2 separate regions of the Homo sapiens genome follow, and region 1 is linked to region 2. The links come from fine-mapping of genetic effects on gene expression. A gene starts in region 2. The other region holds a variant in brackets. All regions are shown on one strand. Distances are from middle to middle.

The links. PIP is the estimated chance that this variant, and not a neighbour inherited with it, causes the effect. A credible set is the group of variants that fine-mapping cannot tell apart.
Region 1: its variant is the best candidate, but not a certain one, in a credible set for the expression of IL15 in tibial nerve (GTEx, PIP 0.51).

What each region holds. Positions count from the first base shown.
Region 1 is chr4:141,723,918-141,728,917 of GRCh38, reverse strand. It overlaps IL15 (interleukin 15), which reads right to left. Exons shown (of 8, transcript NM_000585.5): 6 at 934-978. Among named protein-coding and RNA genes, the nearest start is that of IL15, 90 kb to the right of the region's middle. The variant A/G (reference allele first, on the strand shown) is at 2,766.
Region 2 is chr4:141,633,388-141,638,929 of GRCh38, reverse strand. IL15 (interleukin 15) reads right to left here and starts at 2,347. Exons shown (of 8, transcript NM_000585.5): 1 at 2,182-2,347. RefSeq lists an enhancer at 2,345-2,434.

The sequences.
Region 1 (5,000 bases), 90 kb before region 2:
CATGGGTTGCAAAGTTATCTTCTTGCAAAAAAGCAATTTCAGGATGCTGAATTTGGTGGCTAATTGACTACTTTCCATTTTACAAAAAATGCAAAGAAAAACAGAATCCATGCTGAAGCCAGAGGAGGGAGACAATTTCTTTGTGCAGCAGCATGACCCAATTGGTTAGTGAATATCTCTTTTTTCTAGTTTCTGACTATGGTTTCTTTCCAATGCTTAGAAAGTCATCTATGTAAGAGAAGTTCTAATTGAGGAATAATGGAGAGAGGACATAGAGTTTGTTTTCCCTGACGTGAAGTTGGGGATTCATTTCTTGGTTTTAGTAACAATACTGAAGGGAAGAACCACCACCAACATGACAAATCCTACATTCCTTAGGAAATGTCAGGGTATTAATGAAACAAGTTCAAGACCATTTTTCAGTTCTAATAAGTTTCATGGGTTATGTTTCCTTTCTCACATAGAGAATAATTAGAATCTTTTTCTGACAAATGTAGAGAATCATGTAAAATGCAGAACATGAATGATTTTAAGCAATTTATGGAAAATATGATTGCAGATGGTGATACATTACAGCATTGGAAATAACTGATATATTGGCTACTCTTAAATTGAAACAGTTAATCTGATTTTTGCATCTAATTGCACCATGATGCAACTGCATCACAAAAACGTATAATGTATCTTGTTTGACATTGATGGAAAAGACTCTTTTAATATTTTGATTTGGCACCATTACAAAAATAGCATTGATGTAGCTATCTGTCCCCAAGTCCCATCTCAATAATCACTAATAAAACTCATTGACCATATATTATAGAAACACACCAAAAGTTAGATTTTAAAACTACCATATTTTAGTTGTTACAAAAATATACTTTTAAAAACTTTAATAACAAGACAAATAGCAATTTTGAAAAAAAGTATACTCACGTGAACATCACTTTCCGTATATAAAGTAGCATCAATATGCATAGACTGAAAGGAAACAAAATTAGACAATATTAAAAACTATGCCCTGCTTTAAATATTATGAGAACAACCTACTGAAAACATTAAATTGTTTTTAATTCTTTTTTTATTTTGAGATAATTTAAAATTCATATGAAACTGTAAGAGTAAATACAGAGAGATCCTGTGTACCCTTCAACAAGCTTCTCCCAGTGGTAATGTCTTCCATAACCACAGTACAGTATTACAATCAGAAAATTGACATTAATACAATGCACTCACCTTGTTCAGATTTCACAAGTTTTATGTGCCACAGTGTGTGTGCTTGCATATGTGTGAAGTTTTATGCAATTTTATCATTTGCATAGATTCACATCACCACCACCACAGTTAAGACACAAAATAGTTTCATCACCACAAGGATTCTGCTGCTATTCTTTCATAACCAAAGTCACCTTTCTCCCCATACATACCTCATCATCACCCAATCTCTCTAAATTCTGGCAACCACTTCTCTGCTCTCCATGCCTATAATTTTGTCATTTCAAGAATATTATGTAAACGGACTCATATCATATGTAACCTTCTGAAATTAGCTTTTAAAAGAATTGATAGACATTTTTATGAGCCATTTAGGTTTACAGAAAAACTAGCAGAAAGTACAGAGACTTATACACCCCTTTGTTCTCCACCCCAGTTTCCCTATTGTTAATATCTTGCATTAGTGTGGTGTGTTTGTTATAGTTGGTGAATCACTATTATGATCTTAAGTGTACAGAATATTAGGGCTCATTATTTGTGTTGTATGTTTTACAGGTTTTGACAAATGTATAATGCCACCCATCATCATATATTAATATTTTCACTGCTTTAAAAGTAGCCTGTGCTCTGCCTAGCCATTTCTCCTTCCCTCCAAACCCCTAGCAACCACTGATCTTTTTATTGTCTCCATAGCTTTGCCTTTTTCAAAATGTCATAGTTGGGATCATACAGTGTGAAGCCTTTTCAGATTGGCGTCCCCATCTTTCACTCAACAATATGACTTTGAAGGTTTCTCCATTTCTTTTCATGGCTTGATAGCTTATTTCTTTTTATCACTGGATAATATTCTATTTTATAAATGTACCACAGTTTCTTTATGAAGACTGGCTTTTTTCACTCATCATAATACCCTGGAGATCCACCTAACTTGTGGGTATCACTAGTTTGTTCCTTTTTATTGCTCTGTAGTATTCCCTGACATGATATATCACAGATTTTACCAACTGAAGCACATCTGTTTCCAGTTTTTGGCAGTCATGAAAAAATCTCTGTGAACATTCATGTACATATTTTTGTGTGCACGTAGTTTTCATTTATCAAGGATGAATGTCTAAGAGCACAATTGTTGGATTGTAAGGCAAATGCATGTTTTGTTTCATAGGATGCTGCCAAACTATTTTATACAGTGCCTGTATCATTTTACATCATCACCAGCAATGTATGAATGATCCAGTTTCTCCACATCCTTGCCAGCATTATCACCCTTGTTCATTTATATTTACTTAGCATCATCACTATTTTTTATTCTGTATACGCTTATAGCTGCATGTAATAATATGTCATTGTGGTTTTAATTTGCATTACTTTCTAAACAAAATATACCCATTTTTACTACTTTCTCTCCAAAAAACTTGGGGTGATGTATAATTTTCCTTTCCAATCTGTGTGCCTTTTATTTATTTTTTTCTCATACATTTTTTCTCTCCTGCTTCATAATTTGGCTAAACTTCCAATATTATTGCTGTGGTTTGAATGTCCCCTCCAAAATTCAG[A/G]TTGAAACTTAATCCCCAATGTGGCAGTATTGAGAGGTGGGGCTTTAAGAGGTAATTGGATCACAATGGCTCTGCCCTCATGAATGGATTAGAGTATCAATGTGTTATTACGGAAAGGGAACCGGTAGTTTTATAAGAAGAGGAAGAGAGACCTGAGCTAGCACATGAGTACATTCAGCCCCTCGCCATGTGATGCTTTTTGTCACCTCTGGACTCCAGAGAGCCCCCACCAGCAGGAAGGCCCTCACCAGATGTGGCTCCTCAACCTTGAACTTTTCAGTCTCATAACCATAAGACATAAATTCCTTTCTTTATAAATTATGCATTTCAAGTACTCTGTTATAAGCAACAGAAAACTCAGACAATTATGTTGAGTAAAAGTGGTGAGAGAAGATATCCCTGCTTAGTTTCCAGTCCTAGCAGAAAAACATTCAGTCTTGTACTCACCATTAAGTATGGTAGCTCTAGACTTTTTGAACATGTTTTGTACCAAGTTGAGGCAGTTCTCCACACCTACTTTCTAAGAAATTTTATCTTCAATAGGTGTTTATATCAGTCTGCTAGGGCTGCTATAAAAAGTACCACAGACTTGGTGACTTAAATAATAGAACTTTATTTTCTCACAATTCAGGAGGCTAGAGGTCTGAAATCAGGGTACCAGCAGTGTTGGTTTCTTTGGAGTCCTCCCTCCTTGGCTTATAGGTGGCCATTTTCTCCCAGTGTCTTCACATGGTTTTCTATCTCTGTGTATCTATACCCTTATCTGTTTTTCTAAAGATACCAGTCATATTGCAGTAGGACCTGCCCTCATGACCTCATTTTAACTGACCCTATCTCAAAATACAGTCACATTTTGATATACTGGCAATTAGTACTTCAACATATAAATCCAGGAGGCATAGGGAGGGACACAGGCCATGAGAGGTGTTGCATTTTATCAGATACCTTTTCTACATATGATTTTCTTCTTTAGCCTGTTGATAGGGTAGATTACATTGCTTGACTTTCAAATAATTGAGCAAGACTTGTGTACCTGAAATAAATCTCACTCGGTCATGGTGTATAATTCTTTTTATACATTGCTGAATTTGATTTGTTAATATTTTATAGAGCATTTTAATATCTAAGTTAATGGGAGATATTTTTGTAGTTGTCTTTTTTAGTAATATCTTTATTTGGTTTTAGCATCACAGTAATACTGGCCTCCTAAAATCAACTGGAAAATGTTCCTTCCTCTTCTATTTTCTAGAAGAGACTGTACAATTGTTGTTAATGCTTCTGTAAATATTTGATAGAATGATTCAGTGTAACCAGCAGGCTTGAAGGTCCCTTTTTGGGAGCTTGTGTATGATGAATTCAATGTATTTAGTGATTATATGAGTGTTTGGATTGTCTATTTCATCTTCATTATGTTTTGGTAGTTTGTGGTTTCTGAAGAATTGGTCCATTTCCTCTAAGTTATCAGATTTGTGAGCATAAAATTGTTCATAGTTTTTCTTATTATCCTTCTAATGACTGCAGATTCTGTAGTGACAGCCCCAAATTTCATTCCTGAGATTTGTGTCTTCTCTCTTATTTCTGTCAATTAAAGATCAATTGTATTGATTTTCCAAATAACCAGTTTTATGTTTCATTAATTTTTTCTATTGTTTTCTTGATTTCAACTTCATTAATTTTGGCTCTTATATTTAAATATTTTCTTTGTTCTGCTTGTATTGAATTTGTTTTGCTCTACTTCTTCTAGTTTCTTGAAGCAGTAACTTAGATTTTTGATTTGATAATTCTCCTTTTTTTCTAATGTATTCATTTGATTTTAAAAAATGTCCTGTCAGTATTGCTTTAGCCACATCACATATATCTTGATATGCTGTATTTCATTTTTTTTCATTCTATGTATTATGAATATCCTTTGAGATTTACTCTTTGACCCATGGATTATATAGAGGTATAGTATTTAATTTCCAAGCATTTGGAGATTTGCCCGTTGTATTTAATTTCTTGATTTCTGGTTTGATTCCATTGTGGTTTGAGAACAAATTCTGCATGATTTAAGTTCTGAAAAAATTTTTAAAGTTTCTTTTATGGCTCAGTATATATTTAGTCTTGATAAAAGAAAGTATATTCTGCTGTTGTTGGGTGTAGTGCTCTATGTATTAAATTAGATCCTGTTGGTTGGTTATATTGTATTTTTATGCCCTTTCTGATTTTCTGTCTAGTACTTCCATTAGTTACTGA
Region 2 (5,542 bases):
AAACTCCAGGAGAGATGAGGGGAAAAGGACAGTAGTCTATATTTTCAAAAGATTTAAAACTCTTTTGGGTCAGAGACCCATTTAAAAAGCTGATCAAAGTTACGGATATTTTCCTGAGAAAAATCCACATGTACCCAGCATTTCAGGGCTGCTCTTCTAGCTGTCCTGAAATTCATCAGAGGCAGCAAATCTGAGATGGAGTATCCCGTAGGCTTTAAAACCTTCCACTTCCAAAATCTATTTCGATAAACCTTAAACCACTGTTTTCTCCATCCCCCAAGGAAATTTATAAACATTGTGCCTTGCAATATAGCTGTTGACATTGGCTACATTAATTTCATGGATTAAAACAAAAGAGCATCATTTTAATCACCAGTAGTCTGCAGGAAAATTCCAACCAGAACTATAGCTTCCAATCAGGTTCTGGAGTTGCCACTCCAAATCAGCAAGGAACAGTGAAACCAAAAGTATGGGAACACCCTGCCTATCAGAAGTTCCAGACCAATGGTCAACTGACCCTTCTCTGTCACTGTTGCAAAGCAGATGATACTGCAGGAGAGACTTTTCTGATTGACTAAAATTCTGTGAGAATTTTACACGAATAAGGACCCGAAACTAAGACAATCATAACAAACCTTAAGATCTCTATGATACTTGTTAACTTTAAGCAAAACTAGCTTTTTCTTCACTTTTTAAATCTAAATGGCTTTTGCTGTATTTTCAGTTCTTCTCTTTATATGTCTTTATGTTCCTTCCCATGTATTTCCTTGCTCTGTTGGCCACATTACTTCACACGAAAACAACAGGAGTTTAAAAATTTAACCTGTATTATATCTTTTTTATTCATTTATTTATTTTTTGACAGGCTGGAGTGCAGTGGCAGATCATATAGCTCACTATAAACTGGAACTCCTGGTCTCAAGCTATCCTCTCGCCTCGGCCTTCCAAAAGTGTATTGTATCTTGATGCTTTCAGTAGAATGGTTCACCTTATAACCTCTACATGGCAGGATGCATAATCACCAGTTTATTCTGTAATACCTGAGCAAAAATTCAGCCTAGCTAATATGGCCTCTTTCACCACACTGACAAGATAAGGATGACGTCCACTTAGTTGGCCACCACCAGTATCATAATATTAGATAGTAGTTTAAAAATATATAATGGAAACTAGCTGGTGACCACCACTTTACTTCCAGTTTTGAAATTGCTGACTCATCCTATTTAAGAATCTGTTGTAAGCATCATTTAAGAATTAGTTTGGTTTAGACATACTTTGAAGTCAACATAGTTTTTAATGCATGGAATTACATAAAGTCAAATGAACTATATACCCTTGCTACATGCGGTCTTAATAACACTTGAAAAAATTGGCTGGATTTTCATTTAAAAGCCACCTTGAATAATGATTTTATTTCAGTGAAATTCGCTCGTATTTTTTCCAAGTTCCTTCGACATTCTAGATACACTATCGCTTCTCTAAGAGATAACTGGCTGGCGCAGAGTTGGAACCAATACAGACCCAGGCCTGACTGCCAAGCACTGACCATTCCTGCAAATTTCTCTCCCAGAAGACGTGTGCAAGCAAAGAAGAGGGCGATAATTTGATTTTGCAAAGGTAGGGATAGACGCGCACGCACAGACATCTGCACCGGCCCACAATGAGTTTGGGACGGGAGCAGTTAGGAAGTGGGGAGCTGCGGTACCTTTTCTTGGCCTTCCTGAGCTTGACTGGGTGCAGAACTCAGCCCTCAGGGCTGCGGGACAGCGTCTTCTCAGAAACCCGCAGCTTGGCTGGGGCCGCCAGACGCGCGTCCCTCACCCTCCCAGCGGAGCGCGGGGTGCCCGGCCCGCCTTGCGCTAGCCAGCAGCCTGGAACGCCGTAAGAGCGCAGCGCAGTAGGGAGTCGCACGCCAGGGGCAAAGGGACCTGCGATCTGCGCTCCTCCGGAAGCGGGAGGATGGCTAGGAGAGCCTCAGAAGTGTCATTAAAGGAAAAACCAAAAATTGAAGTTGCGGCTAAGTTTTCCCCATGAGAAGGCGGGGCAGCTCGGCCAGTAGGATAGACCGGAGGGTAACGCTGGAGCTGGGAGGGGCCCTGGGCGTAGGCTTTCGGGGAAAATTCCATCGCCCTTTCAACCACCACCACTCCCCTCCCAAGGCAAAGAAGCCGAGCTCTGTACCTCCATCGAGTCCTGGCTGCAGGGTGGGGGGCGACAGCCACCGCAGCCGGGAGGGTGCGGCCACCCAGTTCCCTCCCGGGGGGCGCCGGACTTCGAAGGCAGTGAGCGAGTCAGCTGGGATTCCCCCGGGCGCCTGCCACCCGGAGTCCCAACCCCTGGCGAAAAGAAAAGTGAAAGAGAAAGAGCCGGGAGCATAGGCGAAGACAAACACCTCCCGCGGAGACTGGGGGTGGGGCGGGTGGCGGCGGCTCCTGGATGACTGACTGCCCCAGGTGTCACTGCTTCCCGGCCTGTTTCCGTCCCTGCCGGGGCCTGGGGCGCAGAACTTGCAGGGCAAGCGCAAGGACATCGAGGAGCCCCAGCCCCGCCCTGCAGGAACACCAGCCACCGGTCTCCTCCTCTACCTGCCGGGACACCTGCAGAGAAGGCACAAGGATAGCCGCATCCCAAGCGACGGGCACCATGTGGGAAGCTTCCGCAGCTGAACCTGGAGACCCGGGCTGGGCTGGCGCGCATCCAAGTCTTCCTGAGGAAAGGGAAAAGGATGTCGGATCTGGATGCTGGGCGGCTACTCTAGACCGGCCTCTTGGTCCCCGCACAGGCTGCAAGAAGGAAACTTTGAAGTCCAACTAGGGGAAATGTTGGAAGAAGACACCCGGGTGGCAGCTTTGTGCAAGACAGTTGGTACAGGGAGTGAACTTAGAGCAATGAGCCTCTCTGCGGATCACTTTTCCAGCCTATTGTGTAGTCCAGTGTAAAATATCACACATGGTCCCATTTGATGGAAGCGTGAGATGTTGTTCTTGTAGTATTTTTACATTGGAGGAAGGAACTGAGTTGAGGCTGAGTGATTTGCATGCCATAAAGGCAGTAGCAAAGATCTCACGCTTAGTTTTGAAAGTACTTTGCAGAATCTTGCACTCTTGTGAATCACTGAAAATCCCTCTTGTACGGTGCTTTCCAAATTTTCAGAGTCATGGTTCAGAGAAAATGATGTCTTCCTGGAGCGCAGTTTAATTTAGTTTAAAATTTAATTATGTTTTTAATTACATAAATATGATAAATATCAAATAGAAAAATAATAGAAATTATTCACTTTCCATGTACATAAAGTTCCGTATAATATAATTTCATATTTTTATGAAAAATTTGAGTTTATTTTCATTAACTCAATTTTTTGATATCAGTTTTATATTTGAAATAATTACTGATGGACTTTTTGATGAGAATTACATCAAACTCTAGATAGTCTCCATTAACAAAATAAGTGAGGTATAAAAATGCAAAAACAGTTTTTACAACCATTCAAAATTTCACCATAGTTGGAAATTATATTTAAGAATATGAAGCCATCATCCATTTCTGTTCATGACGATGTCATGTTGAATTTTCTTGTGATGGTGTCAATGGATTTCAAGACCAGTCAGAATTTTTCATAGCAATACATTGAAGCTCTGATTTGCAGAATGAGCATGCACTGGGAGAGCAAGACTGCAGCTGGTTTGGATCTCACCACAAGAATATAGCAGCCACGGAAGGACTGATATGCATATGTGTGAAGATAGAGAATAGGGATGAACAAGTGTATCATGTGTCCCAACCTCATTTTGGACTGTTGCAGAGCTTCCTGGACTCCTGCCATGTAAACTCCTCTAGCACCTCTTTCAGCTCCTTTAATGGATACTGTGTTCTCTGCAGCCGGTGAAGGAAGCAGGTGTCCACGCTCAGCACCACCTAGCAGAGCTCAATATCAGATATTGCTGCTGCCAGAGGACATATCATCACATCTCAGATCCTGTCTCTCTTGGACTGCCCACAAACTCTATAGAAAGTGCTCTCAGCTGGTGCTCACTAGCCTGTGGGCTTCAGCTTTGTTAGCTGTCTGCAGGACTCAGGGCCATCAGTATCTGACTGCATACTTTTAATATATTGAGACCACCAAGAACGTTCTGAGCTACTAGAGAGTTTTCACAACACTATGAAATTGACGGAAAGTTTACTTGTAGGGTGAACTTAAGGCATAATCTGAGTATATAACAGTAAGAAAATTGGTCTACAACTGTTTATTGGGTTTCAACTATAGTAGGTTCTAGAACAAGATGGACTAAATGATATATAAAGCATTTTGTCAGAGTAGGGAGATAAAAAACATAAATAACAGTAAAGTACAACTAAAAATTATTATAGTCATAAGATATGCTTTGCTCTACTATTTGCCTCCCAAATATGTTGGTCAAATTTGTTTTCATAAATACAGATGTTTTAAAAGTATTTTTAATTAGTTATGAGTGCCTGCAGTTCAATGAAGTTGGGTTTGCAACATAATTTGTTTTTGTTGCATTGCACTCAAAAAGAAAAGTCTAATGTATGCAACTTGTGTTTTCAGTTGCCACAGGCTGTTTGGCAAAATATTGAAAATTACTCATACCAATGAACAAGTAAATTCTGCTGCATAAATTAAAAGCAAAGATGAAGATTGATGAAATAATTTGAAACTGTCTTAAGATAACTAATAAAATTACAGGGTAGAAAGAAGTGGAGATTAACTAAATCTCATAGAAGTGACCATAATAATCTTCCTGAATTCAAATAATTAACAATAAAATTATAGTTTAATAAATTTTTAATATCTTTTTTCAAAAACAATGTCAATTGGGCAATCATCTTTAAAATAAATTACTAATAATTTATTTTCTAGCTTTTGTGATTACATGGAAGAAGTTACAAGTTATTTCATCTGATTTAGTGTTCAAAGTCCATGACTGTGGCCTTATTTATGGTTTTACTAAGATTTAAACCTCCCATCAAGAACAAGTTGATCCCCTGCTCTTTGGAAAACATGGCCTGCCTGGGTTCTCTACATTTCCATTCGGGGTAAAGCATGCTGAAATGCAGCATTACCTCGAAGTTGCTTCTCACATTTTTTTCTGGTGATCCTGACAATAGACAGATACTCTTGGCCTTAAATACTATTTAGGTTTTCAAGAGCTCCTCAAGTTGCTGCTTTTTCAGAACCACAACAGTATTAGTTAGGACTTCTGTAGTTCCTCCAATCTGCTATTTCTCCAGTGCTGTGCTAAACACAAATGTTAACTTATTAAATCCTCACAGCAAAGCTATGAGATATAAACTATTATTATCTCCATTTTACAAATGGGAAAACCAAGGCCCAAAGAATTATACAGCTTGCCTAAGATCACATGGAAATTGACTGACCCAGCAAGGATTTGAACTCAGACAGTCTGGCTTGAATACACATTCCTACTCTCTGGTGCCTTTAAATTGGCAGCCATTCTCCACTGTTTCTAAAACTGAATTCATAAGGAAAGAAGCGTGGACCCCCAGACAGTATGTCTTAGTC